3 separate regions of the Homo sapiens genome follow, and all the other regions are linked to region 2. Evidence: fine-mapped expression QTL. A gene starts in region 2. Each other region holds a variant in brackets. All regions are shown on one strand. Distances are from middle to middle.

What was found. PIP is the estimated chance that this variant, and not a neighbour inherited with it, causes the effect.
Region 1: its variant is fine-mapped to the expression of RASL10A in caudate (GTEx, PIP 0.97). The same link has a PIP of 0.9 or more in putamen.
Region 3: its variant is fine-mapped to the expression of RASL10A in whole blood (TOPMed, PIP above 0.99).

Annotation. Positions count from the first base shown.
Region 1 is chr22:29,342,103-29,350,261 of GRCh38, reverse strand. AP1B1 (adaptor related protein complex 1 subunit beta 1) reads left to right here. Exons shown (of 23, transcript NM_001127.4): 10 at 112-227; 11 at 879-1,044; 12 at 7,879-7,977. Among named protein-coding and RNA genes, the nearest start is that of SNORD125, 13 kb to the right of the region's middle. The variant A/G (reference allele first, on the strand shown) is at 3,410.
Region 2 is chr22:29,311,088-29,319,257 of GRCh38, reverse strand. It overlaps RASL10A (RAS like family 10 member A), which reads left to right and starts at 3,561. Exons shown (of 3, transcript NM_006477.5): 1 at 3,561-4,230; 2 at 5,271-5,395; 3 at 5,690-6,325. The coding sequence starts at 4,012. The coding sequence ends at 5,957. GAS2L1 (growth arrest specific 2 like 1) reads right to left here. Exons shown (of 6, transcript NM_001362985.3): 6 at 6,471-7,796. The coding sequence ends at 6,761. RefSeq lists enhancers at 3,565-4,369, 4,370-5,174, 8,117-8,170.
Region 3 is chr22:29,281,906-29,290,080 of GRCh38, reverse strand. It overlaps EWSR1 (EWS RNA binding protein 1), which reads right to left. Exons shown (of 17, transcript NM_005243.4): 6 at 7,524-7,691; 7 at 2,947-3,158; 8 at 1,295-1,475. Among named protein-coding and RNA genes, the nearest start is that of EWSR1, 18 kb to the right of the region's middle. The variant C/G (reference allele first, on the strand shown) is at 3,411.

The DNA.
Region 1 (8,159 bases), 31 kb before region 2:
AGGAAGGTGTGCCAGAAGTGATTTGCAGCCCTTGGCCGAGGCGTGGACATCAGAGGCTCTACTGGAAATGGGGTGCGGGGACCTCGCCCACACTCTTCTCTTCCCATGCAGCAATCTGCGGAGCGCTGTGTGAGCACGCTGCTCGACCTCATCCAGACCAAGGTCAACTATGTGGTCCAGGAGGCCATCGTGGTCATCAAGGACATCTTCCGCAAGTACCCCAACAAGTGCGTGCCCGCCCTCCTAGGGAGAGGGCATCTAGCTCTGCCTGGGGACAGGGATGGCGGGGCAGAAAAGGAAGGAGGAATCTCCTCTTCCTTACTTCTTGGCCACAAGCGTCATTCTCAAAAGAAACCCTTTGTTTTTTATTTCGTCCACACTGCCCCTCCTCTACTCCCCAGGCCAAAATAAGGGCTAACGTGTGACAGATGAAACTCAGATCCCCAGGCCAGGTGTGGTGGCTCTTGCCTGTAATCCCAGCACTTTGGGAGGCCGAGGCGGGTGGATTGCCTGAGATCAGGAGTTCAAGACTAGTCTAGCCAACATAGTGAAACCATGTTTCTACTAAAAATACAAAAAAATTAGCTGGATGTGGTGGCATGTCCCTGTAATCCCAGCTACTTGGGAGGCTGAGGCAGGGGCATTGCTTGAACCAGGGAGGTGGAGGTTGCAGTGAGGTGAGATCACACCACTGCACACCAGCCTGGGCAACAGAGTGAAACTCCATCTCAAAAAAAAAAACAAAACTCAGATCCCCTTTACCTGCCACCTTGGGGTCTTAGGAGGCAGGTCCCCTTCCCTCCTGGCCCCTGTCTGGCTTCCCTGGGTTTCCCGTTCTCCTTGAGGGCTCCCATACCAACTGTGCCCTGGTCTCCCAGGTATGAGAGTGTGATTGCCACACTGTGTGAGAATCTGGACTCCCTGGATGAGCCTGAGGCCCGGGCTGCCATGATCTGGATTGTGGGCGAGTACGCGGAACGGATCGACAACGCAGATGAGCTGCTGGAGAGCTTCCTCGAGGGCTTCCATGACGAGAGCACACAGGTGAGCCAGCGAGCTGGCCAGGGTGTGAGTCATGACTGGCAGCTCAGCCCCACTGTGGCCCATACTGCCATGAAACCCTCCCTTCCTATTACCTCGTAAACAGCCCTGACAGACAGATGAGTGATGTGCGCGTAATGGACACCGCCCCTTTTCCTCCTCACTGCAGTACAGTCGAGTCGGGGACACGTGAGAGTCTGTGGTGGTGTGCGTGGAAGGCAGGCAAAAGTTCTTCATTTTGTTTTAATTCCATAGTCATATTTTAATAGGAAATATATTGACTTGGTTTAAAATTGATACAAAAGCATATATAGTGAAAAGTTTCCCTCTCATCACTTTGTAGGACACAAATTCTCCTCCCAGAAGTCATCACTTTTTTGATTTCTTAGGAAAGTTCAGGAGATCATTTAGGAATACACCAGTAGACCCACAGATACACACACATGCACCCATCCTTCCTATACACACATACACACACATATGCAACCAATTCTTATTTTTCATGGTGCTTCTGTTCCATAGTCATGGCAGACACTGAATTAGCAAGTACTGAACCATAGCTCCTAGGAGAAATATAGAGTTTAGTTTCTGTGAGCATCTAGACCCAACGTTTTTGTCAATTGATCAGTTAATAACCTTTTTAAATGTGTGTTTCTGTTTAAAAACACCTTAGTTAATATATATTGTCAATTCATTGACATTGAACTCATGGCCATGGATACTGTAATTCATGCCTTAGCGAAGCTTATCAAGGACATGTTTTCTCTGAGGCACATCACAGCCTTCTGTGCTTGGGGACACTAGGCAAGCACTTCAGTGCTAGGGAGCATTTTAAACAAGGAAATCAACAAAAAGCTCAAAAATGTGAAAAACATGGCACTAAATAGGTGGTGGAAAGGATGCTTGTTTACAGGATGAGAGCTGAAACATGAGTGTTGCCTTATTTGACCTCAGCTGTGAATGTGTGTGTCAGGCAACTGAAAGCTTTCACGGTTCTGCACGTATTTGCAAATGACTGCAAAGGCACCATGAGTCTTGATTTGGGGGCTACAAGTAAATTTTAGCAAGTAGGCAGATTCACAAACATGGATTGCTCAAGTAGTGAGAATCAACTGTATCTACACTGCCCTCTCATTTATTTTTAAACACTGCTGTAGCATACTCTGTAAATTCAAATTGTTTAGCACCTTGCCTTTTTCTGTTACCAACACCTGCAAAGACCATGCTCTCATTCATTTATGCTTTATTTAACCATCCTCTCCTGGTGGGTATTTAGGTGTCCAGTCTTGTGCTCATTGAAACAGTACTGCCGAGAATAACCTGTGTAATGCACATCTGCAGGCATAGCTGGAGGATACATTCATAGGAGCAGGATGCTTAGAGAAAAGAGCATGTGAGTTTGAGATTTGGGTAGCTGTTGCCAGATTCCTGTTGTGGAGGTTGTGCTGGTTTAGACTCCTATCTCAGATGCTGGGATTGCCCTCTCCTTACTTCTGCTTTGTTTTTGCCAGTCCAGTAGCTAACAGGGGTACCTCACTGTAGTTCTGTTTGCATTTCTGTTATGAATGAGGCTGAATGTCTGCCTTGTCATTTGTATTCCCTTTTCTCAGTTAACTGGGAACTGTCTGTTAGTCTGTTGGTGAGCACAGAAATTTTTGCTGCCCAACTGGGGTTGTGTAATCCCGTGGGTCCAAGTGTGGGACTTAGAATGAGAGATCCCAGAGTCCATACCCCTCCTCTGCCCCTTCCTGGCTCAGTAACTTTATGCTTATCCCTTTAACTCTCTGAGCCTCAGTTTCTTCATTTGTAAAATGAGAATCATTAGATCTTCCCTCATCCTCTTGCTACGAAAGTTAAATTAGGGTGCTTTGTGTAATGTCCTTGACACATGGCCAGCCCATAATAAACACTCGTTCATGGTAGTGTTGGTTTGGGCCAAATTGGTTTCAAAAGCAAACTAGTCCAGGCCAAAAAGGGGACCAACTGGTTCCGGTAGCTGGCAAGTGTGGGTAGCATGCTCTCTTCTGGGACTCCTGGCTGAGGGTGCTTGGATGGTGGCATTGAGCTATCTTCTGCCATGGATAGGCTCCCAACAGTGGGAGCTGTAAGGAATCAACAGTTCCAGGCTATGTCCTTATGGCACAATAACTCCCATGGGAAGAGTTTTTCCCCTCCCCTCAGTAGTTCCAGCAAAAGTCCCAGGACCTATTTGCATTATCCTGAGCCAGGCACTGTGACTCTGGTTGGCGAGGTCTCTCAGGCACCGATCCCAGTTTGTGTGGACTGAAAGGGACAGAAAGAAGGGCGAGGCTCTGAAGGAAAGCCAGTGTTTCTGTTCCCAGAAGACAGAATAGATGCTGGGTGAGCA[A/G]AAACAACAGATGTCCATCTCAGAATCACAGTACTAATTCCCACCGTCACCCCCCCCCACTGCCACCTGCCTCCAGACTGCCTTTGCTTGCAATACCAGCCTCTTCCCTCTGTCTCAGAAGCAAAGCTTGCCTATGCTGGGTTCTGCTCCTGCAGTCAAGTCCTGCCTGGGATCACTGCAAGGATGTCCTGTAGTGCAGGGATCCCCAACCCCCGGGCCACCATGGCCTGTAAGGAACTGGGCTGCACAGCGGGAGGTGAGCGGCGGGCAAGCAAGCATTACTGCCTCAGCTCCGCCTCCTGTCAGATCAGCGGCGGCATTAGATTCTCATAGGAGCGCAAACTCTATTATGAACTGCACATGAGAGGGATCTAGGTTGTGTGTTCCTTATGAGAACCTAATGCCTGATCTGAGGTGGAGCAGTTTCATCCTGAAACCATCCCCCAACCCGCATCCCCTATCTGTGGAAAAATTGTCTTCCACAAAACTGGTCCCTGGTGCCACAAAGGCTGGGAACCGCTGCTGTAGGGGTGTGCTTCTGCCCCTATAATAGGGTCAGTCTTTTGCAGCTAAGCCTGCTAAAAAGCTAGAATGAGAGAAGCTGGACAGGGAGAGGTAAGCCAAGAGTCTGGTGGTGTGAACAGAAACAGAGCTCTGAAGTTTGAGATCCAAGCTCCTCCTCCCTGTTGTGTGGCCTGGAGCACAGTTACTTGAACTCACCAAACCCATTTCCTTGTCTCTAGTGCAGTTATTGCAAAGACTGCTGGGCCTTGTTTGTAAAGTGGGGGTGTGATGTAATTCAGTAGCCTGTTCACTTTGCATCTTTGGTTCACAACACAGTTCAAAGCTCTTTTAAGAATACTTGTTAGGGCCAGGCACAGTGGCTTACACCTGTAATCCTAGCATTTTGGGAGGCCAAGGCAGGCAGATCACTTGAGGCAGGAGTTTGAGACCAGCCTGACCAACATAATGAAACCCCGTCTCTACTAAAAATACAAAAATTAGCCAGGCATGGTGGTGTGCGTCTGTAATCCCAGCCACTCAGGAGGCTGAGGCAGGAGAATCGCTTGAACACGGGAGGCGGAGGTTGCGGTAAGCCGAGATCGCACAACTGCACTCCAGCCTGGGCAACAGACCAAGACTCCATCTCAGAAAAAAGAAAAAAAACAAAACAAAACTTGTTAACTGGGTGCAGCGGCTCACGCCTGTAACCCCAGCACTTTGGGAGGCCGAGGCAGGAGGATCTTTTGAGTCCAGGAGTTCGAGACCAACCTGGGCAACATAGTGAGACCTCATCTCTATAAAAAAAAAAAATTAGCTGGGTGTGGTGGCACACCCCTGTAGTCCCAGCTACTTGGGAGGCCTAGGTGGGAGGATTGCTTGAGCCTGGGAAGTTGAGGCTGCAGTGAGTCAAGATCACACCACTGCACTCCAGCCTGGGCAACAGACCGAGACTCCATCTCAGAAAAAAGAAAAAAAACAAAACAAAACTTGTTAACTGGGTGCAGCAGCTCATGCCTGTAACCCAGCACTTTGGGAGGCCGAGGCAGGAGGATCTTTTGAGTCCAGGAGTTCGAGACCAACCTGGGCAACATAGTGAGACCTCATCTCTATAAAAAAAAAAAAATGAACTGGGTGTGGTGGCACATACCTGTAGTCCCAGCTACTTGGGAGGCCTAGGTGGGAGGATTGCTTGAGCCTGGGAAGTTGAGGCTGCAGTGAGCCAAGATCACACCACTGCACTCCAGCCTGGGCAACAGAGCGAGACCTTGTCTCAAAAAAAAAGAATACTTGTTTAGTGCTTGACGATTTGGAGTTTTTTGTTTGTTTGTTTTAGTGGCGAAATCTCACTATGTTTTGCCCAGGCTAGCCTTGAACTCCTGGGCTCAAAGGATTCTGAATAGCTAGGACTATGGGCCTGCACCACTGCACCGGGCTTGACAATTATGGAACTCATTTTATATTGTCTTGTTGAATCTTCTCATCCTTGGCTCCTAGGCCTCTCTAGCCATGGACAGCAGACTTAGAAAGTCTTGGTCAGCAGCTGGGCTCACGCCTGTAATCCCAGTACTTTGGGAGGCCGAGGTGGGTGGATCACTTTAGGTCAGGAGTCTGAGACCAGCCTGGCCAACATGGTGAAACCCATCTAAAAATACAAAAATTAGCCAGGTGTGATGGTGTGTGCCTGTAATCCTAGCTGCTCGGGAGGCTGAGGCAGGAAAATCACTTGAACCCAGGAGGCGGAGGTTGCAGTGAGATGAGATCATCCCACTGCACTCCAGCTTGGGCAGGAGAGTGAGACTGCATCTCAAAAAAAAAAAAAAAAAAAAAAAAAAAATCTTGGCCAGGGTGGTATATCAGCCCAGCGTCTGGCCCTGTCCTGCCATCCCATCCTGTCTGGATGGCAGGGGCAATGGCATTATTGCAGAAGGCTGCCCTAAATATGCAGGCTAACGGCCTGAGTGTGTTGAGCGTGTTGAGAGGAACTGGAACGGATTGTTGAGCCAGGGCCCTGGGCACCTGGCCAGACCTCCCTCTGGCAATACAGCCTGAGGCATACCTGACTGGAACCACAGCAGATCTGACAGTGATGAATAATTCCAGGCATCCGGCTGACTGGACTGGGAAGAACTCTTTCAAGAGTCCCTGTGTGATGGTAGTGGTGATAATGACTGTGATGATGATAGCTGTTCTGTAGTGAGCAGAATACACAATGCTTCTTTACTTTTTTTTTTTTTTTTTGAGACAAAGTCTCGCCCTTGTCCCCCATGCTGGAGTGCAATGGCGAGACCTCGGCTCACTGCAACCTCTGCCTCCCGGGTTCAAGCAATTGTCCTGCCTCAGCCTCCGAGTAGCTGGGATTACAGGTACCTGCCACCAGGCCCAGCTAATTTTTGTATTTTTAGTAAAGACAGGGTTTCACCATGTTGGCCAGGCTGGTCTCGAACTCCTGACCTCAGGTGATCCAACCACCGAGGCCTCCCAAAGTGCTGGGATTACAGGTGTGAGCCATCACGCCTGGCCACTTCTTTACATTTGTGGTTTCATCAACTCTCCATTAACGCTGTGAGGTGTAATGACTGTTTTATACGTTAGGAAACTGACTCAGAGAAGCTAAATGACTTGCCGAGGGTCTGTCAGCTGAGAAGTGATAGAACTGGAGTTCACATAAGGTGTGATCTGACTCCAGCTCCAAGCAAGCTGCCATAAGTTGCTGTTTTTAAAGCTCACAAGAATCCCTGAAGTAGGCCACACCTCTCCTTTACAGATGGGGGTAAACGGCTTCCCATTGGCTGCCCAGGCAGGGCTAGAGTCTGGAAGCCAGATGCTGGGCTGCCTCCTGCCTTGGAAACAGCCAGCCTACTGCTCATCTGCTGCTGGCCCCCATGTAACCAAATTGCAGACTCTGGTTCACCCCAGAATTGGAGGACCACGTGCCCTCCATTCTGCCTGCCTCTGTCAGCCTTCCCTGCACAAGTGCCCTCCTGCTGGGCAGGTGCCAGAGATGCCGTCAGCACGGCTGCTGCTGGGCTTCCTGCACTGCCACTCCTGCCCTCCTGCTGCAGACCTGTCCCTGGCACAGCCTATGGGCTCCCACTGCCCCTGACTCCGGGAGCATCAGGCTGCCCCCTTGTCCTAGGACTAGCAAAAATGAGACCGTGACTAAGGAAGGATTATGTGCAGAGACTTGTTCTCGCATAGATGTTTCTTCAGTCAGCAAGTATTTCTTAAGTGCCTGCTATACACCAGGCACTAGATTGGGCAGTAATTAGTGACACGACAGTAAGCAAGACAGACATCACTCCAGCCCACAGGGGGCTCACTGTACAGGATAGCCAGCAACTGGTGGCGCTGTGACGGGGTGGAAGAGGCTGCAGAAGCATGGGGGGTCTGGAGGTGGGGTTGGCATGAGATCTGAAGGGTGAGGAGGTGTTGGCCAGGATGAGGGCAGCTTTGGGTATGTCCAGGCATGTGGCAGGGGCCGGTGGAGGGCCACCAGGAATAGTTCCAACCCTCTGGTAGAAGCACAGGTCCTTGACGGCAGGCTCTGTGGGCCCTGCTGCCCCAGTCCCCTGGGCCTCCATGGGACTGTCGCCACTTGTTGACAGATGGTCCTGATAAGAAGCACTCCAGCCACACATGTGAGCTTCTCATAGTTCTGTGAATTCTAGAGCTCCAACAGGTTTCTAAAACCCTAGGGCTGGGCAGCGGCCCCTGGCCTACTTGGGTTTGCCAAATAGTCCAGTATTCAGCTCCTTCCTGAGTGAGTGATGCCGAGGTCTGGCTGCTCAGCGGCACCAACACTTGTGGCAGCCCTTTGCCTGTGTGCCGTGACAGCCCCAAACCTAGAATAGCTATGCTTGGCTTCCAGGGACTTTGAACACCCTATTCCTCTTCAAGCCTTTTTGTTCTCCCTCTATCCCCATGTGAGGCCCACACTTCCTCCTCGTCACCGCTGTTCCCTGCAGGTCCAGCTGCAGCTGCTGACAGCCATTGTGAAACTCTTTCTAAAGAAGCCAACAGAGACCCAGGAGCTGGTGCAGCAGGTCCTCAGTTTGGCCACTCAGGTGGGTGCCCCAACCTCCCCGCTGTGCCCAGCATAGCCCTCACTCAAGCAGGGGAACTTTTGTCCCAGGAACTAGACCTGGAAGCCAGGCCCGCTCCTAAGACAGGTATCTTGTGGGTGGGACTGGCTTCCAGCCCCAGAGTTACCCAAGCTCCCTGCCTTCAGGGTGCTTAGAACACAACA
Region 2 (8,170 bases):
TTAGTGGTGACTGGTGTGGCCTAGCAAAGGAGTCCAGAACTAACACCCCCTGGGAGCTGGATGCAGTCTTGGGTGCCTGACTTCAGGGATGGGCTGGAATCAGGCCCAGTTGGGAAGAAACACATGGGTGAAGGCCAGGTAGCTGGTGTTAGGAGCCTGTGGGCAATGAACTGGGGAAAGCAGAATTCCCCACCTGGTGCCTGCCCCTGCCCAGCCCTCCCCACTATCTGTGGCTTGATCCTTCAGGGCTCAGTATAAGCCCCTCAACTCCCGCTGGACTGGTGCTTACCCTAGGCCTCCTCATCTCCCCAGGCCTGAACCAGCCCAGAGCTCCTGTCTTCACCCGTCCCTGCCTAGCTGCATGTCTGTCTCTTTCTCCCTGCCACAGAGGGTAGGCAGGACCACCTTGGCCACTGTGTGCCTAGTGCCAGTCCCCTCTGCTGAAGGAGAAGATGCATGCATAGTTGGCAGGTGGTCCCTGGAGCCCTGGATAGGGGCATTCAAGGAGTGCCCAGGAGGCCCCTGGGGAATAGGGATTGGAGGGGGGCAGCAGGCAGGAGGCCTACAGCCTTTCCTTGGGGAAGGAATGAGGGGACTGATGAGAGAACCCTGAAATCCACATCCCAGGCAGACAGGCAGCTTCAGCCCCCCAGCCTGCTGGTCTTTAGGAAGCCTGGCACAGGGCTGCACACTCCCATTAGAGCTCATTTCAGCCCCTGTGGATGGGGGGCTCCACGGGACCTAGAGGCCTCCCCAAGTCCCTCCCGACAGGGGGCTGAGTGGTCACTGGGGGCTGAGCTTCAGTTGAGTACTTCCTGAGAACCCTCTGGGTCCAGATGAAGCCAGGCTTCTCAGCCAGGCTCTGGAGCCCAAGGGCCTGGGTTCCGGCCCCTGTGCTGCCATTTTCCTGCTAGGCAACTGTGGCCCAATCATGGCGTCCCAGGGAGCCTTAGTGAGCATGAGGCTGTGGGTCAGGCTTGGCACATCGCAGGCCCTTGATAAATGGGCACTGCTGCTAGGAACGCTGCTGTGAGAGTCTCCTAGGGAACATGGCACGTTTGCAGGGCTTCATGGGAGCCTCAGGACGTTCCCAGTCCACAGTGCCCCTTCCCCTCGCCATCCAAAAACACATACTGGGAGCCAGAGACGCCTCACACACAGCTCTGTTTGCAGTGTCGGAAGGAGAAGCAAGGAAAGTTTTTCAGAGAAAGAATACCCAGGGGTGGGCGGGAGTGCGCCTAGCATTGAGAACACCTTAAAAAAGACCGTCCTGGCCGGGCGCAGTGGCTCATGCCTGAAACCCCAGCACTTTGGGAGGCTGAGGCGGGTGGATCACCTGAGGTCAGCAGTTCGAGACCAGCCTGACCAATATGGTGAAACCCCGTCTCTACTAAAAAACACAAAAATTAGCCGGGCATGGTGGCATGTGCCTGTAGTCCCAGCTACTCTAGAGGCTGAGACAGGAGAATTGCTTGAACCCAGGAGGTGGAGGTTGCAGTGAGCCAAGATCGCACCACTGCACTCCAGCCTGGGTGACAGACCGAGACTCCATCTCAAAACAAACAAACAAAAGACCGTCCTGGTGTCAGCTTTTCAGACTTCTGGGTTTTGTTGTTGTGTTGCTGAGTGCCTTGTTATTTACTCCTTGCCTTGTTCCCCGAAGGAATTGAAGCAGCTCACAAAACCCAGAAGCCTGAAAAGTCAAAAACCCAGAAGTTTGGCCAGATGTGGTGGCTCACGCCTGTAATCCTCGCACTTTTGGAGGCTGAGGAGGGAGGATTGCTTAAGCCAGGAGTTCAAGACCAGCCTGGGCAACATAGTGAGATTCCACCTCTACAAAAAATAAAAATAAATCAGCTGGATGTCGTAGTACACACCTGCAGTCCCAGCTATTTGAGAGACTGAGGCAAGGAGGATCACTTGAACCCAGGAGGTTGAGGATGCAGTGAGCTAAGATCACACCACTGCACTCCAGCTTGGGTGACAGAGCAAGACCTTGTCTCAAACAACAAAACCCAGAAGTCTGAAAAGTTACAACGTGAAAGAGGACATCAAGTGAAGGGAAAAATCATGGTAGGAAAGAAAGATGAAGCCAGCAGTCCCCACTCACTGAGCTAGAAGACCTGGAACACTAGACAGAGGTGGTTCTGAGCTTCCTAGTGGCTGAGGAGAGGAGTGAAAGCGGACCCCAGCCCCCGATCTAGCATGGGAGGATGAAAGCACAGCCATTGTTCTGGAGACACTTTCTGGTTGTCATTATACAGGCTCCCTGGAGGATGTGCCTCCTCCCCCTTCAGGATTTAGCTCCTCTACTTCCCCTGGGCTGGTGTGGGCACATTGTCTGTGCTTTGACAGTCCCTAGATCCCATGTGTTCTAGAACCTTCTCTCCCAAAGCAGAACTTTTTTTTTTTTTCCTGTTTTCTGTTTTTTAAATCTATCTCAGCCTCCTGACAAGCAATAAGATTTGGAATATTTGTTGAGGGGATAAATAAATGAACTCCTTAGTCAGTGCAGAGATCTGTGCATTGCGGCCATTTCTTGAGCATTGCCGCCATTTCTTGAGCATTGCCATGTGCAGGTCAGAGACGTGGGAGCCCCCACACAGCGGGGAGGAGAGCAGAGGCGGAGGATGGGGGGGCTGGGCTAACCCAGGCTTTCCAAGCTGTGATGGGGCAGGAGCTTCTCCACTAGCTCGAGGGAGGGGGAACTTGGGCTCTGGGCGCCTGTTTTGGAGGTTGCATCCCTTTGAGGGGCGCTACGGGTTGCAACTCACGCAGGAAAGGTGACCTTAGTAGTGATGGAGGTGGAGTGGGCCAATTTCTGGATCTTTATTTAGTCACCTCCAGCCTTGCTGGGACAGGGATCTGGGGCTAAGCTGCTGTGGTCTCGGCACCCTCTGTCCCCACTTCCCCTCGAGGACGGCTGTTTGAATATTGTCTAGTGTGGGCCATTTACCCCCGTGGGCAGGAGGAAGGTAGGAGGGACTTCAAAGGAGACTTCAAGGGCCCCCCCACTGCCCTTCTAACCTTGCAGATTCCCCTCTCGGGCCTGTTTCCTCTTCTCTCAACCAGCGATGCCAGGCTGAGGCTGTAGGTTCGAGAATCACGTAGGTAATGGGCCTGGCACATAGTAGGCTCTCAAGAAAAGGTTGGAGCCTCTTGAGGAGTCTGCCTGTGATGGATGCGGAGCGCAGACCCAGCGCAGTGCGGCGATTCGCCCAAGGTCACACAGCCGCCCCCCCCAATTCGGACCCCGGGCGGCCTGACTCCGGGGGCCGGGGCTTGTCGGGAGCCAGCGTGGGGGCGAGCAGTGTTTGGAAGAGCGGCCGCGGCAGTGGGTGGGAAGGGGCTTCTATTTTGGAGCGGGTGAGAGGAGCGGGACACGCGGAGGAGGTAAGGAAGGGGTAGGCCCTCTCCGGGATCTCTGTCCCCCAGTCACCTTCCTGCGACCCTTCCTGGGAGGGGCGTCCTGGGCGGTGGGGGAAGGTGGGAGGGGCGGGCGGTTACCTCATCGCCGCCTCCGGGAGGCCCCGCTCGCTCGCGCCGGCGGCTGGGGCGGCGACTCCAGGCGCGGAAGCGAGAGAAGGATAGAGGCACAGAGGCTCCGGGAGGCAGCGCTGCCCCCCGCGCCCCGCACCGCTGCGGGACCCGCGCCGCGAGAGGGGCGGACTTCGGCGCCTCGCGCGTCCGCCGGCGCCTGGGTTGGCGCTGCGGGGCGGAGGCGGTGTCTGAGCGCCGCTCCGGCTCTGCTCTCTCTCGAGCTTCGGCACCCGCCCGAGCCGCTCGCGCGCCCGCCACCTGTCTGCCCACTCGGCTGTCTGTCTGCCCTCCCGCCGCCAGCTCCTGCCTCGGGCCTGCCCTCTCCGGTCTCGGTGCTCCGAGGGGCGACGAGAAGCGCGACGGGGCCGTGGCGCACCGGGCAGGGCGCGCGGGGCGCACGGCCTGGGGGCGCACGGTGCGGCGCCGGCCCATGAGGCTTTCCAGCGCGGGGAGCGACAGCGCCGGCCGGCCATGGGGGGTAGCCTGCGGGTGGCCGTTCTAGGCGCCCCGGGCGTGGGCAAGACGGCCATCATCCGCCAGTTCCTGTTCGGTGACTACCCCGAGCGCCACCGGCCCACGGACGGGCCGCGCCTCTACCGACCCGCGGTGCTGCTCGACGGCGCCGTCTACGACTTGAGCATCCGCGACGGCGACGTCGCTGGCCCCGGCTCGAGCCCCGGGGGTCCGGAGGTAGCGGCTCGAGGAGCGGGCAGGGGCGTGTGACAGTGTGAGGGGTGTGCGTGCTCGGTGCACACGTGCGTGTCCGCGTGGAGGCCTCGGGCGCCTGGCTGTGCTCCGGGATGGAGGGATGTGTGTGCGTCCTGGGATACTTGCGTTTCAGCCCTTCCCGCCGACCTGGAGACGCCCAAGCCCAGGCTGGAGGCCGGGCGATTTTGCCCAGGGGCGTTCCCTTGCTCCTGTGAGCGCCTCCACCTTTGCCTGCCTCGGCTGGGGGTGTGGAGCAGCTCTTGGTGGTGCATAACGGTGCCTTCCCGAGAGTGTGGCGTTTTGTGTTTGGGGCCTTGAGCAGAGCTACAATGGGAGAGACTGGGGTCAGGAGCAGGGGTGTACTTTCTACGGGGGCTGGTGGAGGGGTTCATTCTCTGCCCTATCATTTTTGTCCCCTGGAGCGAAGACTCGTTTAGTAATTTGTGCAAAGTAAAGGACAGACCTCCGACCCTAGAGCAGTGAAGAGGAAAGAGCAGGCAGGATTAAGCAGGGCTTCCTGGAGGGAGTGGCATTTGAGCTGAACCTGGAAGACCGAGTGAAGTTCTGAGTAAAGGAAGTGGCAAAAACATACCAGGTGGAAAGACCAGCAGGTGCTTACGCTACGGTCATAAACGGTTACAGCTGACAATCTGGGGGCGTGGTGGACCACGGGACTCGGGCCAAGGGCTTTGGAATTAGTCTTAGAGGCCGTGGTAAGCACCGAGAGCATCTAGGGAGGAGAGCGGCCTGAGCCGAGTTGGGGAAAGCTGAAAAGAGGAAGATTCGGGGTAAACAGAGGGGAGACCAAGGATGAAGGAGGCTGGCTGACAGGCTCCAGGCACGATTTGGAAAATTTTACCCTGGTGGTCATGAGGAGACGGCCCGGAAAGCTTGGGGGAGGGGCACAGAGGTCTGTATGGGGGTGATGTTGGCCTGAGGATTAGCGTCCAGGCCCCTGCAGAGGGTTCGAGAGCGGAAGAGTGGAAAGGAGGCTTCCGCAAACCCTGGCCTCCTGTCCCCAGGAGTGGCCAGACGCTAAGGACTGGAGCTTGCAGGACACGGACGCCTTCGTGCTCGTCTACGACATCTGCAGCCCGGACAGTTTCGACTACGTGAAGGCCCTGCGGCAGCGCATCGCGGAGACCAGGTAGGGGCCCGGCAGTTCTGGCGGTGGGGAGCTAGGACAGGTCTGGCAGGGCCTTTGCCTGAGGAGAGTGTGTAGGGTCTCCCAACGTCGTGGGCCGGGTCTTAGGCCTTCGCCCGTGGGAAGGTCTTAAGCTGTATGTGCTCTTTGGCCCACATGGGCCTGGGGTTTCGTTGGGGCGGCGGGGGGGGCGGTGTCTCTGGCCGTAGGAAGGGAATGCGCCTGCGTGTGTATACCCACTGGGGGAATTCTCCGGCCGTGGGGTCCCCGCGTCTCTCATCTCCATTCGGCCCCCAGGCCGGCGGGCGCGCCCGAAGCGCCCATCCTCGTGGTAGGCAACAAGCGGGACAGGCAGCGGCTGCGCTTCGGACCGCGGCGCGCGCTGGCCGCCCTAGTGCGCAGGGGCTGGCGCTGCGGCTACCTCGAGTGCTCCGCCAAGTACAACTGGCACGTGCTGCGTCTCTTCCGCGAGCTGCTGCGCTGCGCTCTGGTGCGCGCGCGCCCTGCACACCCGGCCCTGCGCCTGCAGGGGGCGCTGCATCCCGCGCGCTGCAGCCTCATGTGACCCGATCGGACAGTGCCATCCATGGGCCCCACCTTGTGACTGGGACAATCAGGGACCTGGATTGGACGGGATCGCCCAACTTCACTGGGACTGGACAGGGAAGTCTCCGCCCTGATTGGATGAGGAAAGCTCCAACCCAGTCTCCTAAGCGACTGGCCCCCTTTTGAACCTCATTGGACCCAACCAGGTCCCAAGCTCCATTGGAGATGACCAGTCCTTTCTGGGACCTCAATGGGTCACAATCCCATTGGATGGAAAGGACTTGGCTATGAACTTGACTGGAAACACGCAGCCTGCTCCTGGAGCTTCACTGGACATATTCTTTATGCCACACCTACCACGGGATAATAAAAGGGAAAATAATTTGAGTGCGCCTGGGATTTCTGGGCTGGGCGGGATAACGCCTTAAGCCTAGAGGTCAGAGTTGCCAGGCTTGGCCTCCAGGCAGTTAACTCCAGGGTCCTCGAAAGGGTCTGAATGGCCCCAAGGTGGAGTCCCCAAGAAACAGACAGGTGGCTGGAGCAAAACTTTACTGTCAGAGGCTCTGCTGGGCCACAGGTCTTCAGAACACCGGGCTCGCCCGGCCTCCTCTAAGGCATTCAATAATATTAGTAATTAAATAGCAACGCTCATCCCCCAACCGGAATGTACAACAGAGGTCCCATTGTGCCATGTGGTCCCAAGGGGTCTGGTCCCATGAGGTCTGGTACTCAAGAGGCAGAGGGGGCTCCCTGATGCAGAAGGGTTAAGGCCACAAAGGAAAAGGAGAAGGGATGGGGTCTGGGGACAGCTGAGCTGGTCCATCACATCCAGGAATCTGGCTCAGCCCTCGGGGTGACTGAGTGCAGGGCATGCCATGTCCCCAGCTCTGCGGGTCCGGAGGGGCGGCGGGGGCCCCGAGGCGTGGGGATACGTGAGGGTTTACGGTCTGGCTGTGTGTCCATCCGACCCCGTGCCCAGGTCCTCGAGGGTTCAGTGCAAGCCAGGGGGCTCCCAGGTGCATCTAGTGGCCCCCCCATGCCAGGGCAGGGGCTGCCTTCATCGGAGGAGCTGGAAAGGGCTTGGCTTCGGGGCCCAGGCAGCCCATTGGCCGTCCGGCCAGAGTCCCCAGGTTGGCCACATTTGCCACCCAGGACGCTGAGGGACGAAGAGGAGGAACTGGAGGAACAATAGGCAGAGTCAGGAGCTGGAGGGTCGGGGGCCCGAGCTGGGTCAGGGGCTGGTCCAGTGGGGGTCACGCTAGCAACAGCCTCAAGGGCCCGGGCATTGGCCAGGAACTCCTCTTCCAGGCGCCGGAACAGCTGCTGCTCCTGCTGCGGGTCGAGCTGCAGGGGTGTGCGGAAGATGCTGGCCGGTGTGGTGCCCAACTCTGGACTGGGGCTGGAGACCCGGGAAAGCCGGGGTGCTGCAGGGCTGCGGGCACGGGGAGTCTGGGGGGTGCTCCTGCCCGAGCCCCCACTGCCCCTGCCCCTTGGCACCCATGAGTGCTGCCCGTCTCGATCCCTGCGCACAAGCAGCACAGCCTGCTCCTCGCGGCTCTGGCTCCGGGCCCGCCGGGCAGGGCTGGGGACCGACAGCTGGGCTCCCCTGCCTCCTGGGGCCCCCCGGGGCCGGCCGCGATCCAGCCGGTCTCGGGACTGGCTGCGCAGGGCAGGAGGCCGTCTCGGAGAGGCCGGGGTGCCTGTGGTCAGCCGCCGGCTGGGTCGCTCCCTCCGGGGGCCAGTGCCTGTGTCATCACTGCGGGTACCAAGGGGGCCGCTCTGGGCGGAGGAGGCTGAGGAGTCACTGTCCCCGGAGTAGCGGCGGGAGCGGGGATGGGGGGGCAGCTGATCCCGGGGCCTGGGGCAGGGGGACAATAGAGACAGATGGGGTACCACGGAAGGACTGGCATGCAGAACAGGCAGGGAGAGGAACAGCAGGGTATGTGGCTGGTGGACGGGGCTGTCAGGGGCATCGGTCTGTCCTGGGGACTTCCAGGGAGAAGTGAGCAGCTTCCTCCAGCGGCCCAGGGCCCCAAAAGCCACGGAAGAAGAAGTTTCCTGGGCTCTAGACACCCCCCTTCCCAGGACGGGCCAGAGGAAGCAAGAGCTGGACTGGCTGCCGCCCAGCCACAGGGCCCGCCCCAGCTGTGTTGTTGGTTTGGTTGGGTTGCCATGGAGATGGGAAGCCAGGCCCGCCCCCACCCACGGGAACTTTTCCCAGGGTGTGAGTCA
Region 3 (8,175 bases), 29 kb after region 2:
TATAACTTCTGGAGTATTTAAATAAACTTGAAATTGTATTTGCAATTTAAAAATACTAGGAATTCTAGGTGATTTGAGACGTGATGATAGTACTTTCAAGTGTCTATGTCTATTTTAAAACATCCAAAAAGAAGTGAAACCTTTATAATAGAGTATTTTCCAAATCAGAAGATTGATTTTACTTCATACCGAATCATTAAATTTTTGCCTGTTGTCAAATGACTTTCTTCCAATAAAGATTTCACTAAAGACTTTCTTAAAGTTATGCAGAATATGCAAAATAGTACTGTCTTTCAGTAGTGAAGAGTATTTGCTAATATGGAAGTTAAAAATCAACTTTAATTTTGAAGTTCATTCTGTTTTTTAAAAAATGCTATTTAATTTTTCCTTGAATAGTGGCACACCGTATCAAATGTAAATATCTAACATTCTGCATAACTTTTTTTTTTCTTTACCAGTTTATATAGGGACAGAACACACACAGAACTAAGCCTTCTGGATTATGTTAACCACCAATATTATAGCTCACCTTCATCAAAGTACAGACACCAGATAGGGAAAAGGGGATGGGAGAAGGGAGGGGAAGGGCAGGCAGAGGCAGCAGGGTTATGTCATTGATCTAAACAAAGTTTTCTAAACCAGATTGTGCCATCAATCAAAATGGTCAAACCGATTTAGACTTTCAACATCTCCAGTAGGAAGTGAGCCCATAATTATATACATTACTCTGCAAAATGCTATTGGATTTTTCTTTGCTCCATCCAAACTCTATGTAATCAGGTGCACCTCAGGCTATAGTTTAAGGATTATGGGACCAAAATCTTCATATGTTCAACGATTCTGAGTACAAACAGAAGTTGGGGACAAACACTGTGGAAAACAGCTGCATTCCTTTTCTGCAGTATATACACCAGGTATTTCAAGACAACCATTCAAAGGCAGTTAGTTAACAACTTAGGGTCATTAGAAGGGTTGTGTGTGTTCCATCCCAAATCTACTACCCACAGAGGCTTCTCACCTCTGGAAACCATGAAGGGAACTGAAAGCTCTGGTTTCAAAACCATTCTTTGTTCTCCCCGACCCAACGAAGTATACTGGCAGGGAAAGAAAATAAACTGCCACTTAATATATGCCACAAAGATGACATTTCCATGTTTTAGAAGATGGCTTGAGCTCAACAGATTGTCCATGGAAATGCAGAAATTAATTTCTTATGTCTTTCAGTCCCTTCTTTCCACTGAAAATCCTATGGATGAAACAAAATTAGGTAAAAGGAGAAAAGGTTTGCTCTTACCCCATTCCACCGCGTCCTCCTCCCCGCCCACCTCTGCTCATGCCTCCACGATCAAATCCCCCTCTTCCCCTGCCCCGGTTATCAGGGCCACTCATGCTCCGGTTCTCTCCTGGTCCGGAAAATCCTCCAGACTCCTGCCCATAAACACCCATGCTACTGGGGTGGTCCTGTCGGAATGAACCTGAGGAAAGAGTCACATCTGTAAGCCATGGACCAGCATTTACACCACTGCCTGATGTACTTTCTCCTGGAATCACAAAATCCTCAATTCCAAGGCACTAACCAAGGCACCATCTTCTTTACATCACGATAAAGCATCCTTAATAGGTAGGCTCTTTTAAGTTCAACAAAACTGCTGGATCATCACAGCTGAAATAACCTTATATAGTTAGCCTATAATAAACCTCTTCTAAATAACAACAACAAAAAAAGCCCTCTGGCTAACATATAGTTTATAGGGTTCTATATCCTAAGATGTCTCCAAAAGCAGCTTCTTTTGAGCTAAACTCAAGAAATGAAAACAGAGCCAGGTTTCTTAGGGCTTTAGCACACTGCTAGGGGCTGAGCTCCATAAATCAACACTACTCCTTTGAGTTGTTGAGAAATCCCCGTGGATAGAATGTAATTTAAAAAGAGCAATGATCCTAAATTCTGAAGATAATTATGTGTTTTGGTTACCTCTCTCCATACAGAAGAACTGCAAATATTCTGTGAGGAGGATTATTTTTCCCCCTTTCCTTTTCTATTTTCTTAAAGAATCTTTATTTATCTTTAAAAAGACAGGGTCTCACTATGTTGCCCAGGGTGGTCTCAAACTCCTGGTCTCAAGTGATCCTCCTGCCTTGGCCTCCCCCAAAGTGCTGGGATTACAGGTGTGAGCCACCATGCCTGGCCATTTTTCCCCTTAATGGATATAAACAAACAGCAACAAAAAAACATAGCTTTTACTTGACTATCAAAATCATAGTGGCCTGCAATAGCTGCCTCCCCACTTTACATTAATGACTGATAGGGAGGCCAAAAACGATGTTGAATTTACTCACTGCATACAACTTCCCCAAAGACAGCAGGGCTAGCAGTCTAAAACATTTTTTCTGATCAATTAGTATCTCTTTTCTTTTTTGCCAAGGCATACTAAAAACAAATTGGAAAAAAGCACTGAAATCTTCACTGGGGCATCCAAGATGTTAGCTGGAATGCCATGCCCTAAAGATGTGTCCTGGATTCCAAAAGCAAACAATGGCAAAGAGTATTCCCCCTGTTCAAAAACTCCAAACGTGGCTGGGCGCAGTGGCTCATGACTGTAATCCCAACACTCTGGGTGGCTGAGGCGGGAGGATCACCTGAGGTCAGGAGTTCGAGACCAGCCTGACCAACATGGTGAAACCCCGTCTCTACGAAAAATACAAAAAATAGCTGGGCATAGTGGCAGGCGCCTATCATCTCAGCTACTCGGGAGGCTGGGGCAGGAGAATTGCTTGAACCAGGAGGCGGAGGCTGCAGTGAGCTGAGATGGCACCACTGTACTCCAGCCTCAGCCCCAAGAGTGAAACTCCATCTCAAAAGAAAAACAAACCAACAAAAAAAATCAACCCCACAAAAAAACTCTAAACACATTCATTCTTATTTGGTTTTCTCTCTTAGCAACTCACTCTGCTGCCCGTAGCTGCTGCTCTGTTGGCTATATTGACTTGGAGCTTGGCTGTAGGATCCAGTTTGGGGTGGGTAACTAGTGGGAGGCTGCTGCCCATAGCTGCTTTGTTGACCATAGCTACTCTGCTGTCCATAGCTGCTCGGTTGCCCATAGGTGTTCTGCTGAGAGTAACTGCTCTGATCATAACTAGTCGGCTGTGTAGAGGAATAGCTGAAAGAGAGAGAAGAGAAAAAAAAAAAAGCTTTTTTAGAAAGAGGCTTGTTATTTCAAATCCCCTGAATAAAAGAGACATTCACACCATGTGACACAGACATCCATAAAACAGTAGTTACTTTCTACACATCAACAATTTGAATTTCAACTCAGCAAATACTTTTGTGTTCAGAATAAAACATTAAATGGGAGGGTAAAACAAAAAAATTTTTTTTTTTTTTTTTTTTTTTTTTGAGACAGAGTGTTGCT[C/G]TGTTGCCTAGGCTGGAATGCAGTGGCGTGATCTCCGGTCACTGCAAGCTCTGCCTCCCGGGTTCATGCCATTCTCCTGCCGCAGCCTCCCGAGTAGCTGGGACTACAGGTGCCCACCACCACGCCTGGCTAGTTTTTTTGTTTTTAGTAGAGACAGGGTTTCATCTTGTTAGCCAGGATGGTCTCCATCTCCTGACCTCATGATCCGCCCACCTCGGCCTCCCAAAGTGCTGGGATTACAGGCATGAGCCACGGTGCCCAGCTGGGAGGGGGAAATATTATAACCACCATCTGTATAATCCTTAAAGAGTTTTCTCTTAATCGCCACTCCCATTTAAAACAATGGTCATTTTCAGCTGGGAGCGGAGGCTCATGCCTGTAATCCCAGCACTTTGGAAGGCTGAGGCTGGGGGAATGGCATGAACCCGGGAGGTGGAGTTTGCAGTGAGCTGAGATCCGCTACTGTACTCCAGCCTTGGCGACTCGGGAACAGAGTGAAGATTCCGTCTCCAAAAAAAAACCCAAAAAATCAGGCCGGGTGCGGTGGCTCACGCTTGTAATCTCAGCACTTTGGGAGGCCGAGGCAGGCACATCATGAGGTCAAGAGATCGAGACCATCCTGGCTAACATGGTGAAACCCCCATCTCTACTAAAAAATACAAAAAATTAGCCAGGCCTGGTGGTGGGCGCCTGTAGTCCCAGCTACTGGGGAGGCTGAGGCAGGAGAATGGCATGAACCCAGGAGGCGGAGCTTGCAGTGAGCCGAGATAGTGCCACTGCACTCCAGCCTGGGCGACAGAGCGAGACTCCGTCTCAAAAGAACAAAACAAAACGTCATTTTCAACTATATTCAAGGCAGGCAAATATGGGAGTTTAGATGCTTCCTGTATTGTGGCAAGAATATGCACTTGGGGAAGGCTGACCCAGTGAAATGGGGACTGAGAAAATATAGAGAGAGTGAAGTGAGGCATTCAGTTCCAAGCCTGCCCGCCAATAATCTCGAGTTAACGATTTTCTGAAGGGATAAGGGTACTCAACACAAAAATAGTAGTTTTCCCTCAAAGATTTGTCTTTGCTACTTTCAATCTTTCAGACATGCCTGATTAACTATGAAATCTGAGTATTAATAGAGGAAACTTCAGAATGAAGGAATTGTATGAAAGACAAATATTAAGATTATGTCAATTACATGGGAGAAATTAATAGATACATTCTTGCACAGAAATGAAGCTTGAAAAGAACTGGTATTGGCCAGGTTTGAAGGCTCATGCCTGTAATCCCAGCACTTTGGGAGGCCAAGGCAGGTGGATCACCTGAGGTCAGGAGTTTGAGACCAGCCTGACCAACATAGTGAAACCCCACCTACTAAAAATACAAAAATTAGCTGGGTATGGTGGCACACGCCTATAGTCCCAGCTACTCGAGAGGCTGCGGCAAGAGAACTGTTTAAACCTGGAAGGCAGAGGCTGCAGTGAGCCAAGACAGCGCCACTGCACTCCAACCTGGGCAACAGAGCAAAACTCCATCTCAAAAAAAAAAAAAAAAAAACAAGGGCCAGAAGCAGTGGCTCACACCTGTAATCCCAGCACTTTGGGAGGCAGAGACGGGTGGATCACCTGAGGTCAGGGGTTCGAGACTAGCCTGACCAACATGGAAAAACACCGTCTCTACTAAAAATACAAAATTAGCTGTGTGTGGTGGCACATGCCTATAATGCCAGCTACTTGGGAGGCTGACGTAGGAGAATCACTTTAACCTGGGAGGCGAGGGTTGCGGTGAGCCAAGATCGCACCATTGCACTCCAGCCTAGGTAACAGGAGTGAAACTCCGTCTCAAAAAAACAAAACAAAACACACACAAAAACAAAAAAACCCATCTGGTATTAAGCTTTACAAATCATGATGAGAAACAGTAAGGACACATATTTTAAAGTCCGATTAAACTAGGCCAGGAAGTTCGAGGCTACAGGGGGCTACGACTGTGTCACTGTACCCCAGCCTGGACAACAGAGTGAGACCCGGTCTCCAAAAATAAACAAACAAACAAAGCTTCTAACACACCACATCCCTCACCATTGCTGTATGAATTCAATAATCTCTCACTGTGTACCTATCCAACTTGCCAGATTAACTGCTATTAACTGCTCTCAATGCAATAGGTACGAACCTGCTCTGTGGAAGAAGGGTTGTAAGCCCTACCCACTTTTGCTCCAAGCTGGCTGTATGGAGAGACACCCAATCAATTCTACTTGTTCCTAAACCTGTTCACATCTGCTGCAAAACAATGAAATGAGTGCAAAAAAGGGAACCGCTACTTCTAGCAAAACTTTCAGGGCACAATTCAAACAATTTGAAAACCCACATCTAATTAAACATGGGTTAAGAAAACTTGCAGGCTGGGCATGGTGGCTCACACCTGTAATCCCATAATCCCAGCACTTTGGGAGGCCAAGGTGGGCGGATCACTTGAGGCCAGGAGTTCAAGACCAGCCTGGCCAACATTGTGAAACCCTGTATCTACTAAAAATACAAAAACTGGGCCAGGCGCAGTGGCTCATGCCTGTATTCCCAGCACTTTGGGAGGCCGAGGCAGGCGGATCACCTGAGGATGGGAGTTCAAGACCAGCCTGACCAACATGGAGAAACCCCGTCTCTACTAAAAATACAAAATTAGCCGGTTGTGGTGGCGTCTGTATCTAATCCCAGCTACTAGGGAGGCTGAGGCAGGAGAATCGCTTGAACCCAGGAGGCAGAGGTTGCGGTGAGCCAAGATCACGCCATTGCACTCCAGCCTGGGCAACAAGAGCAAAACTCCATCTCAAAACAAACAAACAAACTGGCTGGGCGCAGGGGCTCGCGCCTGTCACCCCAGCACTTTGGGAGGTGGAGGCGGGTGGATCACCTGAGGTCAGGAATTCCAGACAAGCCTGGCCCACATGGTGAAACCCTGTCTCTACTAAAAATACAAAAAAAAAAATTTTTGCCAGGTGTGGTAGTGAGCACTTGTAATCCCAGCTACTCAGGAGGCTGAAGCAGGAGAATCACTTGAACCCAGGAGGTGGAAACTGCAGTAAGCCGAGATTGTGCCATTGCACTCCAGCCTGGGCAACAAGAGCGAAACTCCATCTCAAAACAACAATAAAACAAAAAGAAAAGTTAGTCAGGTGTGGTGGCATGCACTTGCAGTCCCAGCTACTCGGGAGGCTGAGGCATGAGAATCCCTAGGAGGCAGAGGTTGCAGTGAGCGGAGATCGTGCCACTGCACTCCAGCCTGTGCAACAGAGTGAGACTCTGTCTCAAAAAAGAAAACTTGGCCAGGCGATAATAATAAAAATAAAATAAAAAGAGTTGGCCCATACATTAAAAGGTTAGTGCATGAATAAACCTTTATGTGTTAGGTAAAATGTAAAATGATTAAGGTGAATTATAATGCCCTGCGCTTTACTTATCCTAACTGCATTGGGGAAGATGGCTCTTACATCTATTTACATGCTTTCATATACTTCTGCTTCCCATCTGAGTTAACTAAAACAGCAAAAGGAAGAAACTTAAAGAAAGAACTTAGAGTGGTAAAAATGTTTTTGTATTTAGAAAGAATAGTTATTAGCTGGGCCGGGTGCGGTGGCTCACGCCTGTAATCCCAGCACTGTGGGAGGCCGAGATGGGTGGATCACGAGGTCAGGAGATTGAGACCATCCTGGCCAACACAGTGAAACCCTGTCTCTACTAAAAATACAAAAAATTAGCTGGGCGTGGTGGCGGGCACCCGTAGTCCCAGCTACTCGGGAGGTTGAGGCAGGAGAATGGCGTGAACCCAGGAGGTGGAGCTTGCAGTGAGCCGAGATCGCGCCACTGCACTCCAGCCTGGGCGACAGAGAGAGACTCCGTCTCGGGGGAAAAAAAAAAAAAAAGAAAAAAGAATAGTTATTAGCTGCCAGGCAACACTATGGGACCCTAGATCTCAGGCTTTAATGTAACCAAGTATGGTCAGATGACTTATCACTGCGACAGTCAGATAACATACCTTAGCTGAAGAAGTCAAAGCAAGCTGGTCAACAACCTGAAAAAAACTGTTTTGTCACTGTTTTTGTTTTGCCACAAAAAGTAGACTGACCTGGTAGGAGGGTAGGATGGAGGTGCAGTGACTGGCTGCATGGGGTAGCTCCCAGGTACCTGGGGATAACTGTAGTTACTCTGTCCATATCCTAGGCTGGGCTGGTTGTAACCCCCTGTGCTAGATTGAGGTTGACTAGTCTCAGTGGGCTTGTTTCCATCCTGCGGTCTAAGAGGAGAAATAATAAATAAAATTAAAAAGTGACTTTTTTTGTGTGGTTGGTCAACCACAAAACTCCTGGGTAAGAATGCTACAAAGCTACGAGCAATAAGCAATGTTATGATTAAGCCTGGAAATAAATACAATAATAAATACAATCCTAAAGTAAACTACATCAAACTCAGTGTCGGTCCAACTATATTTGCTTGAAGACAACACTAAGGAAGGGGGAGAATCAATCATATCCACAGAAGAGACATTAATATGCTCCATTCATCACAGTAAACGCTATAAAAGTGCGTTGCGATATTGTGTGCTACCAGTTTAGGTGATCCGGGAGAAGTGATCTGTTAGGGAATAAATGCTTTTTCTCAAAGGGGACTGCTGAAGACCAGAAACTAACAATAATGTTAAGTTTTAGGTTGAAGTAACATTTACGTAAGTCCATGGCATCATAAATTTAGAGAATTTGTGGGTTTATGTTTCTCATTTA